4 linked regions of the Homo sapiens genome follow. The protein of the gene in region 1 interacts with the protein of each later gene in a biochemical or structural test. Each region holds a gene or a part of one and is shown in the gene's direction. Other genes may lie near its edges.

Region 1 (4,114 bases):
ATGAATTTGGAAAGGGAACCAACACGGTGAGGGGAGAAACTGATGAGGGGAGAAACTAAGGAGGGGAAAATGGAGGAGGATGAAGGAGCATGACAGTGAGGCTGGGCCTCTGGAATGGAATAGGGCTGTGTGGGCAGAAAAGAAATAGAACACGAGACAGGGAAAGGCAGTGCAAGTGCAGAGGGGCATATGGGGTCCCCATGGCTCCGAATGCTAACCTCTGCCCTCTTTGCAGGTGGATGGGCTCGCGCTTCTGGCCGCTGTGCTCCGACACTGGCTGGCACGTGGACCCACATGCCCCCACATCTTTGTGGCCACCAACTTTCTGAGCCTTGTTCAGCTACAACTGCTGCCACAAGGGCCCCTGGTGCAGTATTTGGTGAGGAGACCAATCTAGCTCCTCGGGGACCCCCAGGCTGGGCATTTCCCAGAGGTGGGGATTGGCTCCTCTATCAGAACAAGGGCTCCCTCAGCACAGAGACCACATCCCTTCCCTTTTCTCCCTCCCCACAGGATTGGCCAAGGGTTTCAGGACAGGAAGGAGGTGATTGATGATACACTGTCTTTTATTCTCTTTTAAGACCATGGAGACCTGTGAGGATGGCAACGATCTTGTCTTCTTCTATCAGGTTTGCGAAGGTGTTGCGAAGGCCAGCCATGCCTCCCACACAGCTGCCCAGGCTGGGCTTCCTGACAAGCTTGTGGCTCGTGGCAAGGAGGTGATGAGATCCAAATGTGCAACCACCTCCACATCAGAGCTCCCTTTCATTCCTAGTCCTACTGGGCCTGGGTCTAGGTCCACAGGATTTCTGACCCTTATTTCCCCTTCTCTTCCCCACTCCCCTTACTCCTCCCACCTTCTTGCTTGTTCCTAGGTCTCAGACTTGATCCGCAGTGGAAAACCCATCAAGCCTGTCAAGGATTTGCTAAAGAAGAACCAAATGGAAAAGTGCGTATATGGCCCCAGTGTCTTTACCCTCTCTGCATCTTCTCCTGCAACTCTTCTCCCCTTTTCAGGGACTCAGCCTTCCTCCAGCACTTTGCCCTTCAGAAACCCACCATTTCTTTCTGAAATCCCTAAATCTTCAAGATCCCAGGTTTTCTGTGCCACAGCCTCTCCCCTCTGCCCAGGGATTTGGTTGTCCATTCTGCCATAAATCTTGCGATTTTCTCTCTTCTTCAGTTGCCAGACATTAGTGGATAAGTTTATGAAACTGGATTTGGAAGATCCTAACCTGGACTTGAACGTTTTCATGAGCCAGGAAGTGCTGCCTGCTGCCACCAGCATCCTCTGAGAGTCCTTCCAGTGTCCTCCCCAGCCTCCTGAGACTCCGGTGGGCTGCCATGCCCTCTTTGTTTCCTTATCTCCCTCAGACGCAGAGTTTTTAGTTTCTCTAGAAATTTTGTTTCATATTAGGAATAAAGTTTATTTTGAAGAAAGATATTGTTTCTTTAGTCTCAAAACAAGAGACTAGGAAAGATCCAAAACACAGAGCAGGAGTCCACAGGGGAACCTGCCCTGCCTCAGTAAAAATACAGTGTTGTTGCTGTAGGAAGACTCCCGGATTCTACCCCAGGATACTTCATGAGAACGAACCCCTTCAGAGAGGCCCTACAAAACAGATTAGAGGGAAGACAGAGGGGTCCAAGGGAGATGGTCTCTCTTCTCAAGTAGGAACACCCCAGCCTCAGACAGACACAGCAGGAAGGGGCCTGAGAGGCTGACAGAGGCAGGATGGGTGCAAGGCAGGGGTGGAGGGGAGGGACCAGCCCGGGCTGCACCAGTGGGAGTGGCTCCACCCTTCCCACCTCAGAGCCATGGGGAGCCAGGGCTCTGGCGGGGTGCCCTTGGTGCAGGCTCCCTACACAGTCCTGCTGCTGCCGCTGGGGACAAGCCGCCAAGACCCAGGGGCCCAGAGCTTCTTCCTTTGGGTGAGTATCAGCCCAACAAGAGGTCCCAGGGGAACTCTCTCAATAGATCTGCCCTTTATATTTCCATTCAACTTGAGGGCCCACAGTGTTCCCGCCTGCCTCCCCTTGCCCTCCAGGTCCTCAGTGGCCAGTCTGGGTTCACACTCAGTGACCACACAGTGAACCCAACTAGGGGTGGAGAGAAAGGGCCATAACCCAGAGCCCTACTGTGGCGTGAGAGTCAGCCTCTGTGATTGCCTTTCCCAGCTACGCAGGATGCAGGCTCTGGAGAGAGAACAGGATGCCCTGTGGCAGGGTCTGGAGCTGCTACAGCATGGCCAGGCCTGGTTTGAAGACCATCTGAGGGAGGCACAGCGACAGCAGCTGCATCTAGGGGCCCTTGGTGAGGTATGGGGGCTGCCCCTCTGTGTGAATGGGGGGAGGACCAGGGAGGGAGGAACAGGGAATGTGTAGACACAGCCTGAGACCACTCTGGAGAGGGGAGAGTTAATGGTCAGGGATCATGAGTTGGAGGCAGCATCGTAATGACAGGATGCCACCAAGTGTTAAGTTGGTGTTCATTGTTGGGGCTGGAGGAAGCTGGTCTGCATTCCATTCAGAGGGATTTGGATCACTCCATGGAGATGAGGGTGTGGCCTGGATTATTCCAATGGGGCAGGGATGGACAGGGAGGCTCCATGAAGAGTAGTGAAAGGGGGTATTGTGCTATTTGAGGGAGATGGAGGAACTGATGTGCTAAAGAGATGGAGGTGGAGAGTACTGGATTTTCCCACCTGCCTGGGAGGGTACTGGGACGAGGGGATCCAGATGAGAGGGATGGCCTGTGGTGACAGGAATAGAGTGGCAGACGACCTCAGGTTTTCACCATGTTGTCAGCCTCCAACTCCTCCTCTAGAATTTTCTAACAGATTTACACTCAGAGCCTGGTCGCCCCCCGTTAGCCCAGATTCAAAAGGTGAACATCTGTTTGCAGAATCTGATTCATGAGAAGGTGAGTTTATTGTTTTCAGTTTAGACTTTTGGGAAGTTGGACTAGAGAGGGGAGTTGTTGGGGTCAGTGCTGGCTTAACAGAAAACACAGCGAATTTCCCCTCCAGTTCTCCCCAAGTCCACTGAACAAGGCTAGTTCCTGCACCACCCAGGATTCAAAGGAAAGACGAAGGGAGCAGAACTTGTGGCAGCAACAGGTAAACTTCAAGAAGGAGGGCAGGAGCCCCACCCTACAGGGCTGGGAGGAGCCCAGAGGCCCCATCTGTTTCTCCTCCAGGAGTTGTCAAGGCAGCAGAAAGGAGTCACCCAGCCAAAGGAGGAGATGGCTCAGCGGGGCTGCACCAAGGGGCCAAGAGGCCCTACCCGTGTCTAAACCCTCCTCTCACTCCCCTAAGCCTGGTGAAAGAGTCAGAAGCCCCAGGCTCCTTTTTCTGTTTCTTAACTCAACAGCTAAAAAATGGCTCCAGGTAGTGAGTCAATGAAGTTCAGACATGTTGGTGTAAAGTTTCTCCTCTGCTCCTGAAAACTTCATCTTCTTGGTGTCTCATGTCCTCATTCTCCCCTATATGACATGCAAAAACGATCTTTCTTTGAAATCCCTCTGGGAAGAAGCATGTTTATTGAAACTGTCCTTCAGCCTTAAATACAAAAATAAAACTGAAACTGCTCCAGAAAGCAGCTTTCTCCAAAAATGTCTTTGGTTTGTTTCTCATAGGGTTAGGAAAAGTGCATTGTGGGAATATCCATTGCCCTCTATCCCAGTCTTGCAGGGTGTTTTGTTTTGTTTTGTTTCTGAGATAGGGTCTCACTGTCGCTCAGGCTGTAGTGCAGTGGTTCGACCACAACTCACTGCAGCCTCAACCTCCTGGGCTCAAGTGATCCTCCTGCCTCAGCCTCCCAGAGTGCTGGGATTACAGGCGTGAGCCACTGCACCCAGCCCCAGTCTCGAAGTTTCTAAGAAAGGAAAGGGATGTGATGGAGAAAGAAAACCTTCATTGGCTGGGCACGGTGGCTCACGCCTGTAATCCCAGCACTTTGGGAGGCCGAGGCAGGCAGATCACCTGAGGTCAGGAGTTTGAGACCAGCCTGGCCAACATAGTGAAACCCTGTCTCTACTAAAAATACAAAAAATTAGCCGGGCGTGGTGGCGGGCACCTGTGATCCCAGCTACTTGGGAGGCTGAGGCAGGAGA
Region 2 (3,500 bases), on another chromosome or scaffold:
GCTTCAGATACACAGAGGGTTGGGAGCAGGTTTTAAATATCCTTGTCCATCTACAGAGTTCACTTGAATTCTGTTTGAAGGTCTGCTATCCAAATGTGTCTGACCTTCAAATGTGGGTTCAGGGAGTGTATATTTGGGGCAACTTAAATCTATGCTCCCAGGTTGAAAAAAAAAAAAAAAGAAAGAAAAGAAAAAGGAGGCTGGGCACAGTGGCCTGCCTCTGTAGTCCCAGCTACTCAGGAGGCTGAGGTGGGTGGATCACTTGAGCCTGGAAGGTTGAGGCTGCAGTGAGCTGATATGACACCAAGGCACTGCAGCCTGGGGAACAAAGTGAGACCCTGTCTTAAAAAAAAAAAAAAAAAGAGAGAGAGAGAGAGAAAGAAAAGAAAAAGGAAGTGTATATTATTAGAGCAACTTGAATCAATGCTCCTACGCTGTAAAAATAAACAAACAAATGTGGGTTTATTAGGCCTTTAAGAACTGAATGCAATTCCTTGACTATTCTTAAGTATTCTGGTTAGAGAAGAGGATTTTTTTTTTCTTTTCTTTTTTTTTTTTTCCACTGCTTGTAGCAGCAACAGGAAGGATGCTTAATTCAGTCAACAATTGCATTAATTATTGACTCATGACCTATGTGTGCAGAGTGCCCTTCTGGGTGATGGGATCCCCTGCTGGACAGGACAGGCAAAGACTGTGCAACTCCACAGGGCTCATAGTCTAGGGACATAGGAGTGGGGGCGGGGCAGTAAACAAAATAATTGCAACCATCCTACAAAAAAAGCTACCACAATGGGATGGGTGGAGAAGGTCTCTCATGTAACAGGCAAGGTGGGCAGAGTAATGAAAGTGGAGAGGGAGCAGCTGCCCAGGGCAAGAGTGAGCCAGGCAGGGGGAGCAGCCAGTTCAAAGGCCCTGAGGTGGGACAGTGCTGGAGGGGAGGGAACGAAAGGGATGAGGGGAACCTTTTTCTCCCCTTGTTTCTTCTCTCTTTCATCTCCCTCTCTTCATCTCTCTCTCTCTGTGTCCCCTGTCCCTTCCATCTCTCTCCCCTGGATGCTCACCCTCTTTTTGTCTCTCTCTCACTGTCTCCCCATCTTTCACTCTGCTACGACTGGCCATAACCTGAAAGGCAGTATAGAATAGTGGTGAAGAGCTCAGACTTTGGTGCCATATAACCGGGCTCTGCCACTTCCTGTGTGTCCTTAGGCAAGTTATTTAACCTCTCTGTGCTGATAATAATAGTAACCTGCATCAGGGCTGTCGTGGGGATTAAACTGAGATGCAATCATGTAAAGCACTTAGAACAATGCCTGGCACACGTGAGCATCAGTAAGCGGTGACGATTATTATTATTATCACTTAATGTCTCTTTTTCTTTCATCTCTCTTAACTGTCGCCCTCTCCCTGTCCTCTCATCTTTCTCTCCCTTCATTTCTTTCCTCGACGGCCGGCCGTCTTACCCCTTGCTCCCTCCATTTCTTCCCGTCTCTCCTCCGTCTCTCCCCCTACCCTTATGTCTCTCCTCCTCTCTCCCTATATCTTGACCTCTGCCTCTTTCTCACCCCTGCCCTTGCCCCCTAAATCCCTGTCCTCCCCCACTGCCCCCTTGTCACATTCCAGACTCTCCGACGACTCCCAGTCCTCACTCCTCTCCAAGCCTGTCAGCAGCCTGTTTCAGAACTGGCCCAAACCACCTCTGCCGCCACTCCCCACCGGAACAGGGGTCTCCCCTACAGCCGCTGCGGCCCCAGGGGCCACCTCACCCTCAGCCTCCTCCTCCTCCACGTCCACCCGCCACCTCCAGGGCGTGGAGTTCGAGATGCGGCCCCCTCTGCTCCGCCGGGCCCCCAGCCCCTCGCTGCTGCCCGCCTCGGAGCACAAGGTCAGCCCTGCGCCCAGGCCCTCGTCCCTGCCCATCCTGCCTTCCGGACCCCTCTACCCAGGCCTCTTTGACATCCGTGGCTCCCCAACTGGAGGGGCAGGAGGCTCGGCTGACCCCTTCGCCCCAGTCTTTGTGCCGCCACACCCGGGGATATCCGGGGGGCTCGGGGGAGCCTTGTCAGGGGCCTCGCGCTCCCTCTCACCGACCCGCCTGCTCTCGCTGCCCCCGGACAAGCCGTTTGGCGCTAAACCTCTGGGGTTCTGGACCAAGTTCGACGTGGCTGATTGGCTGGAGTGGCTGGGTTTGGCGGAGCACCGAGCCCAGTTCCTGGACCACGAGATCGATGGCTCCCACCTGCCCGCCTTGACCAAGGAGGACTACGTCGATCTAGGTGTGACCAGGGTGGGCCACCGCATGAACATCGACCGGGCTCTCAAATTCTTCCTGGAGAGGTGATGGCTGGCCTGGACGGACCAGCCCCGTCCACAGAACTCTTGAGCCTGCTGGCCTCTTGACCTCTGACCCCTGACTGTCATTCTCTCCCCGGGCCAGGGACTCTGTTCAAACTGCGCCCTGCCCTCATCTCCCAAGGCCAGAGGTCACCAGGTGGCCCAATCCAGGCCGGACATTTGCACCTCACTGAAGGGGGGCAGCTGACACAAGAGTGTGTGTGTGTGTGTGAAGCGGGGAGCGGAGGGGGGATAGGAGAAATTACAGAGGGGAATTGAGAAGGAGGGAAGGGCCTATTCTGGGGGGAGGGGATAGACAGAGCCATAGAGGGTCAGCCCTGAGCCCGATTGGATGGGGACTGTCCCCCAGGCCGCAGGGGAAGGGGGTGCCCTCGGATTCCACCACCTGCCACCCCTCTAACAACCCTTCCCACTCTCTCCAGGCCCCTCAGCTCTCCCCCCTTCCCCTCTCCCCAGCACACACAGCTGCCCCCCTCAGCCTCTTGCACGCTCCGTTGCACGCCTGCTCACCTCTCTCCCCTCCCGTCCCCGGGCTGCAATTTTGCACAAATTTGCCCTCTCGCTGTCTTGCACATTCTGCCTTTGCTTCTGGCTGGCGAGGCCCGCTCAAATACACTCTGCTCTCCTCGCACACGCTGCATTTCCTTTCTCACGCTCCATGCCTCCTTCTCTGCTTCTTGCTGCTTACACACTTTTCCCCTACCAGGGCCCTCCTTTACACACTCCATTTCACATCTCCTCCTCCCCGCTCGCTCTGGACCCTTGTTGCAGACACACTTGGGACACATTTTCCCTCCCCCTCACAGACTCCATGCACATCATTCATTCTCTGGAGTGCCCTGCTCTTTGCTCAGCCCTTGCACACTTGCTATCTTATGCACCCCTCCTGACACACTCTTACCTCCATTTTCTTACGTTGAAGCACTTTCCCTTCTTATTCTTAAAAACCCCAGATTCTTCCACTCCCCAACTCTCCCCTCTCACCATGACACTCCTAGCCCCCCACCCCCCGCCTTCCCTCTTGCCCCTTTTGCACCGTCACTTTTGGTCACGCCTTTTGCACACTTGCCTCCCAGAAACTGTTTCTCTCACACATGCTCATTCTCTTCTTCTTTGCCAGGCTCCCACTCCCTTGCCCCTTTCTGTTT
Region 3 (3,500 bases), about 86 Mb from region 1:
GACCGGCAGTCTAGAGTTGATACGGCAGCTCCACAAATATTAGAGATCCAGATTCCTTCCATCACTGTGCTCTGCCATTTTTAGCTTATGGTTTCCATCCTCAGGATTTCTTCATGTCTGCATTTCAGGCAGGAAGAAGGATTAATCTAAGGAAAGGGCAAAAAGATGCTTCTCCATGATGTTAGCCTTCTTTAAAGAACTTATTATTAAATCTTTCTCAGTAATTTTTGCCAGCATTTCATTGACCATCCCCAGCTGCATGTCAGTCTCCTATTGGCCATATGGCCACTTCCAGTAAAACTGGAGTCTGTTAATAAGGAAGAAGTAAGAAATGGAATTGGGTACCAACCAGTAGCACATTCTTTTCTTTTGCTCTTAATATATTGTAAGCATTTTTCCTGCCACTGTGTACCACATATGTTTTGAGTGTGTAAGAGATAGCAGATATTTTGTTCCTATATGGGACACAGCAATAAATAAGACAGCTATTGCTTGGCAGAGGCAGGACATGAAATGATGTTGATGATATAATGAGAGTAATACATTTATAAGTTTTATTTGTTTTCAGTTAATTTCATTTGGTTAATTAGTTCCTAGTACTGATGTGTTAAAATTCATGAAAATAATTTTAAGTTAAACTCTTAAGTTTTCTAACTCTGTGAATCTGTGTTAGAAGGGTTTTATTTAACTGAAATAAAAGCTCATAACTGCTTCTTCGAGCTATTTGACATTAACATTCAGAAACAATCTAAATTTTCTCTAGAAAAGAATTTACCTGAAGTTTTAACATTAGAATTTGAAAGAGTATGATGAAAAGAACACTGTACCAGTTATGTTGACTAATTTTGATAAAACAAAAAGTTTTAATCTAATGCTATTACAGTTACTATTGTTTATAGATTGCAAATATATTTGTTCTAATGAACTTTACCCAAATGATATCCAACATGTGGGATTTTTCCTTATAATGACTATACCACTAAATAAAATCATTTGTTTGATCTTTTTCTAATTATAAAACTTTTTTCTTATATCTGAAGTCTGGCCCCTCTGTGGAGGAGCTGGTAAGTATATTGTTTCTGTTTTGCTTTAATATGTCACGCTGAAGTGTTCTTAGTGTTTTATTTGCATATTATATGTTGTCACTCATTGTATTTGAAAATAGCATTAATAATGGCAATTTTTTAATGTTCCAGTACCTGAAAAGTTCAGTGGATGGCCCATTGCTCTTTTCTCACTGCATGTTGTTAAACATTTTTCTTTTGTTAGTGATTTATAGCCATTATTTGCAGAGCCTGTCAATTTTTGACAATTTTTGAGCCTTGTAGCTTGCTCATACCTCTACTTCAAAGAGCAATTGGTTTTCCCACTTCAGGGTATTGAAGATATATCAAGCAGGCTTAGTTTTTAACCCCCTTAAGTTTCTGTTTGAAATTATTTCCAGAAAAGAATGTGCATGTTGGTTTCTTCTTCATCTACTGCGTTACAACTTTTCAAGAGTCTTGAGAATAATCGTATGGCCTTTGAAACAATTGAATTTTGAAATGCTTTAGCAGAAGTTATTTTAGAAAATAACAATACATTTTTAATATTTTTCTCATTACCCCAACCTAATCAAGTTCCAATTTGTCTTATGGCTTTACCTCTTTTGAAGATATAATCTTTGGTATCTAAATGTAAAATGAACATCTTGGGTGTTACCTAGTAACAAACAGGTTAACTAAGAACCAAGAAAATTTTTTTCTGGAAATCTAGAAATGGTTAACTTCAGTTTCCTTCATCTTATTCTTGCTTACCTCTGTTAATTTCGGGCCCAAGAGTTTGTCAGATTCATTAGGGATTTGAATCATTAAAACCCCAGTGAGTGGTAGCTTAGTATGTCTCCCACATTTCATTAATGTAGTATAAATAGCTCATTAAAGTAATTGAAAGTAGGTAATCATCAACATAAAGTTTATTTAGCCCATAAGCCAAAGAAATCTTGGTCTAGGAGTGCTCTTTCAAAAGTTGCATCAACTTTAACATGTCATAAGAAAGATTTTTGTTTGTATCTCCAAACTGGTTTCTTTTGAAACAGATACTTGCCCTTTTAGGACATAGGTTCTGAAATAAGAGTTTAATAATTCCAAAATTATGTTAAAAGGAGGATTCTAGATTGAGTTTTTCGAATCCTTTAAAACCAGTATCTAGAAATTACGTTCTAATCTTTTTTTTCCCAGAAATTGAGTCTGCTAATCTTTCATCTGTTTGTCATATATATAACAAATATTTTTAATCAAAGAAGTGATAAATATATCTAGCATTTAGTAGTTGTCATTAATTTTAGCTTGTATGTGTGTGTGTATATGTAAATATATTTTTTTTAGGATTATCGTATTTATTGACTAGTATTCAAATATATCTATTTTGATGTTGTTCAAAACAGTAGACCAAAGGAGGCACATTAAATTAGTACCAAAATATATTCCATGAATTGCTGAAAATTTGCTTAAATTTGTTTCTTAGCTTCTCAATATCCAGAATAAAAAGGGAAATAATTATGTAAAATAATCAGTGCCCATACAATAGAAACAATACTATTCATCATTTCCTCAAGAGAAACAATTTCTCTGGTGCTAAGGTAGGTTTTTATTTACGTCCTCACAAAAGGGACAAAGGGGGTATAGGGAATAATGTCTTCCACATATTGTGAACAAATGTAACCATGTTTTCATAGGATTTGTGGATTCTGTAAAAGCAGTTCTGCTCAGGATAAATGCAAGTTTTCAGTGTTTACGTGGTTTTTTTGATCTATAAATAACAGTTAAAATGTCTATTGGGGTCCTTATTTAACTCTCAAAAGGGTTTTAGAAGTAAATAGCAGATTCAACTATCCATTGAAGCCACTTTTACTAATATGTGATAACATGAGCTTAGAGTAGACTACTTTTCTTACTATACTCCATATCAGGGTAACCCATGGCGTGCAATTATTTTATCTAGAAGTAGTTCCAAGATGTTATGGTACTAGTTCAAAAGAACTACATCCAGATCTTTGTGTTCCATTTTATAGAGATGATACATTGTTGAACTGTAGGCTTTTGTGCATTTTCAGGAACATGGTCTAGTGCTAAAGAGTTTTTATTTTCATTAAATTATATGCTTTTAAAAATTACATAGGAAAGAGAGCTTGAGGCAAACAAAAAAGAAAAAATGAAAGAAGCACAACTTGAAGCTGAAGTGAAATTGTTGAGAAAAGAGAATGAAGCCCTTCGTAGACATATAGCTGTTCTCCAGGCTGAAGTATATGGGGCGAGACTAGCTGCCAAGTACTTGGATAAGGAACTGGCAGGAAGGTGTGTAAAAAATGGGTATTATTGTACTCTTAAGTGACAAATTGGATATTTAATGAGGTTGACTCTTACTTCTTTCTTTTTTTATTTTTTATTTTTTTGAGATGGAGTCTTGCTCTGTTGCCCAGGCTGGAGTGCAGTGGCATGATCTCTGCTCACTGCAACCTC
Region 4 (3,500 bases), on another chromosome or scaffold:
CAGAACTTGAGTGGATTTTAATTTCTCCGTTATTTCTACTGATTTTTGTCTTACGTAGCATTTTAGAATATTTACATTTCTACCAAGATTGCAGCATTTGAAAAGTTCCTTTTTTTGCGGGGTTTTTTTGTTTGTTTTTTTGAGGCAGGGTTTTGCCCTGTCACCCTGGCTGGAGTCCAGTGGTGCAGTCATGGCTTACTGCAGCCTCAGCCTCCTGAGCTCAAGCGATCCTCCCACCTCACCCTCCCAAGTAGCTTGGACTGCATGCACACACCACCACACTGGGCTGATTTTTTTTATTTTTTGTAGAGACGGAGGCCTCCCTGCATTGCCTAGGCTGGTCTCAAACTCCTGGGCTCAAGCAGTTCTCCCACCTCAGCCCCGCAGAGTGCTGGTATTACAAGTGTGAGCCACTGCACCTGGCCCAAAATTCTTACGTTTATTGATGTATGCTTTTATACATTTTACTGCAGTGAGCATATATATAAATTTATAAGTTTTTTATGATTTTTATATTCAATATTTGCTCAGCATGTTTTTAAGAGTTTTTAAAAGTAGGGAACAAAATATCTATTTGTTTTATAAGTGGATATGTCCCTATTTGTATTAAGTATTCTTATATTGAAGACTTCTAGCATTAAAAGAGTGAAATATTTGTGTCCTTGAACACTTTGAAGTTTAGTATTGCTATTAACTTGTGATAATCTACAAAATACTTTAAATGCAGGTACACAGGCTAAGTTAAAAGAAGAAGTGTTTATAATATGTATTATGAGCAGTTACATCTGCAGTAAAGGACTGTTAAGATGTGATTGCTGAATTTTTAAAACATTGATGGCTTGAGGATAAATGGAAATAGTAGTTTCAATATGTGGCTTCATGGAAGAGGGAGGATGTCAACAAATGAAAAAGGAATGGAGAGCTGAGAAATTATCTGATATTGAAGCTATGGGATTTAGGAATTACAGAAATTCCTTACTTAAAATTGTTAATTCATAGAATATTGAAGAAGAACAAAGGTATTCACATTTTTAAAGCCTGTTGGTTCTGCCCACCATCACCAGACAATGTTGTTATTTCTTCTCAATAATTTTGTTCTTGTGAAAATATTAAAAGTGTAGGTAAGCATAATTATGATGGAAACAAAAGTAAAACATAATTTCGCAATGTCACTTTGGAATAACAAGTGCATTTGCGAAAAGATACTAAGAAGGAACATGTGGGATAAAAGGAATCTATTCGTAACTCTAGGAGCAGCTGTATGTCTAAGTGTCCCTTGATTGCAGAACATATACTAGTAGATAACTAAATAGATTCTTTTCTATTTTAAAAAATATTAGTGTGAGGGAATAATTACCTTGTAGTTTTCAACCATTTCTTTCTGGGCTTAAGTTCATATTTATGGATGAGAATCTAGAACTGTTTTCCAAACAGGTCTTGGGTTTAGCATTGCTGGAGGTGTTGGAAATCAGCATATTCCTGGGGATAATAGCATCTATGTAACCAAAATAATTGAAGGAGGTGCAGCACATAAGGATGGCAAACTTCAGATTGGAGATAAACTTTTAGCAGTAAGTATAAGAAATCTATTGTCTTTTAAATCATTTTGTAGTCTGTTTATTTTTCTGATAGATACTGGAATTTCTCCATACCAAAAAGGTCTAAATGATGTTTAAATTAGCAAATACTAGCCTTGCTGTATCAAATCCTAAAAAATGATTCTTGGTAATTCTTTATTTGTCATTTCTCTTTTCTCTGCTAGCTCCTCCTCCCTTTTCCTTTTATTCCTTTGTTGTTGTTGAGGGCTTGTATGCACAGAGTGTTTCATCATAATCCTTAGGTTTATAAAACAATGTCATCATTTGTTTATGCATGACCCTTTTTTATTTTACTTCACTTAATAGTATAATGAAACCTAGTAATTACCCAGCCCAAGAATTAGAACATCAACCATTTTGTGTTTCTTATTCCTTTGCTTCTTAAAAATTGTTTAATCAGGCCGGGTGTGGTGGCTCACACCTGTCTGTAATCTTAGCACTTTGGGAGGCTGAGGTAGGTAGATTGCTTGAGCCCAGGAGTTTAAGACCAGCCTGGGCAGCATGGCAAAACCCTGTCTCTACAAAAAATACAGAAATTAACCAGACCTGGTGATATACACCTATAGTCCCAGCTCCTTGGGAGGCTGAGGTGAGAAGATCACCTGAGCCCAGGAGGTTGAGGTTACAGTGAGCTGTGATTGTCCCACTGCACTGCAGTCTGGGTGACAGAGTGAAAGCCCATCTCAAAAAAAAAAAAAGTTTAATTATATACATATGCCTAAATAATTTTGTTTAGTATTATTTGTTTTGAAGCTTTTTCAAAACACTATTGCACTGTATGAGACTTTCATCTCCAGTATTTTTTTCACTCAATATTGCTTTACTGAGACTTACCCATATCATTGCTTAGAGCTAAAGTTCATTCATTTTATCTCTACATACTATTCCACTGTATGTCTGTACTGCAATTTATTTGTCCAGTCTTCATCAGTGTATTAGTTTGTTTTCACACTGCTATGAAGAATTACCCGAGACTGGGTAATTTATAAAGGAAAGCGGTTTAATTGACTCACCAGACTCAGGAAACTTACAGTCATGGTGGAGGGTGGGGGAAAGCAAACACGCCCTTCTTCACATGCCAGCAGGAGAGAGACGTGCCAGCAGTGGAAATGCCAGATGCTTATAAAACAATCACATCTCATGAGACTCACTCACTATCAAGAGAACATCATGGGGAGCCACCTCCGTGATCTAATCACCTCCTACAAGGTCCCTCCCCCAACACATGGGGATTACAATTCAGGATGACATTTGGGTGGGGACACAGAGCCATACCATATCAATCAATAACTGTCTCAGTCCATGTTCCTTAGGGAAACGGAATCTGAAGAAAAGCTAAAGTGCTAAGGTATTATTTGGCTGTGTGATCTCAAGAAGGCTAGAGTGAGTAAAAATGAGGAGTGAAGCAGAGAATGAACGAGAGCCAATAGAAGGTAGAATGTGTCTGAGCTGGCTGTAATTTTATAAGGTAGCTTGTTGCTTGTCATGTATAACAGTCTTCTAGGCAGACACTGTAAAAACCATCCGGGCATCATAAACCTTACATCCAGCCATCCAGAGAAAAGAAAGAAAGGTTTATCTGCTGGCCCTTTTATTCTCCTGTCTCTTGTCTACCCCCTAGGGGTTATTTGTCCCAAGCTTTTGGATTGTGTTACCCAACTCCCCTGGGCGCAGTTTCTAGGGAAGCCAGCTCCTATACTCCATGGCACAACACTTCACCCAAGCCCAAAAATGGTAGAGTTGCAGTGGTATGACAGGTCAAACATAGGTTTGTGACATGTTATGGCCCTCACTGTGTGGAACACATCAGCCATGCCCAGTCCCAGCCAGAAGAGGCTCAGAAAACTGGGAAGGGCAGGAGACAAGATGAAAGTAGTATAATAGTCAGGACTCTCCACTGAG

Evidence for each region. The genes of interacting proteins can lie anywhere in the genome.
Region 2: the proteins of SAPCD1 (region 1) and SHANK1 interact in a test that uses a peptide from one of them, tested with the Homo sapiens proteins (one large-scale study listed by IntAct).
Region 3: the proteins of SAPCD1 (region 1) and GOPC interact in a test that uses a peptide from one of them, tested with the Homo sapiens proteins (one large-scale study listed by IntAct).
Region 4: the proteins of SAPCD1 (region 1) and DLG1 interact in a test that uses a peptide from one of them, tested with the Homo sapiens proteins (one large-scale study listed by IntAct).

The regions. Positions count from the first base shown.
Region 1 is NC_000006.12:31,761,237-31,765,350, forward strand, and holds SAPCD1 (suppressor APC domain-containing protein 1), read left to right. Parts: upstream 1-1,419; 5' UTR 1,420-1,818; coding exon 1,819-1,932; intron 1,933-2,178; coding exon 2,179-2,319; intron 2,320-2,827; coding exon 2,828-2,923; exon of another isoform or gene 2,924-3,029; coding exon 3,030-3,119; exon of another isoform or gene 3,120-3,199; coding exon 3,200-3,295; 3' UTR 3,296-3,614; downstream 3,615-4,114. Other genes in the region: MSH5 (mutS protein homolog 5), read left to right, coding at 1-26, 236-379, 582-719, 876-949, 1,184-1,295.
Region 2 is NC_000019.10:50,660,803-50,664,302, reverse strand, and holds part of SHANK1 (SH3 and multiple ankyrin repeat domains protein 1), read left to right. Parts: intron 1-1,620; coding exon 1,621-2,338; 3' UTR 2,339-3,500. UniProt on the Homo sapiens protein: Seems to be an adapter protein in the postsynaptic density (PSD) of excitatory synapses that interconnects receptors of the postsynaptic membrane including NMDA-type and metabotropic glutamate receptors via complexes with GKAP/PSD-95 and Homer, respectively, and the actin-based cytoskeleton.
Region 3 is NC_000006.12:117,575,012-117,578,511, reverse strand, and holds part of GOPC (Golgi-associated PDZ and coiled-coil motif-containing protein), read left to right. Parts: intron 1-1,040; coding exon 1,041-1,064; intron 1,065-3,159; coding exon 3,160-3,335; intron 3,336-3,500.
Region 4 is NC_000003.12:197,134,613-197,138,112, reverse strand, and holds part of DLG1 (disks large homolog 1), read left to right. Parts: intron 1-1,434; coding exon 1,435-1,571; intron 1,572-3,500. UniProt on the Homo sapiens protein: Essential multidomain scaffolding protein required for normal development. Recruits channels, receptors and signaling molecules to discrete plasma membrane domains in polarized cells.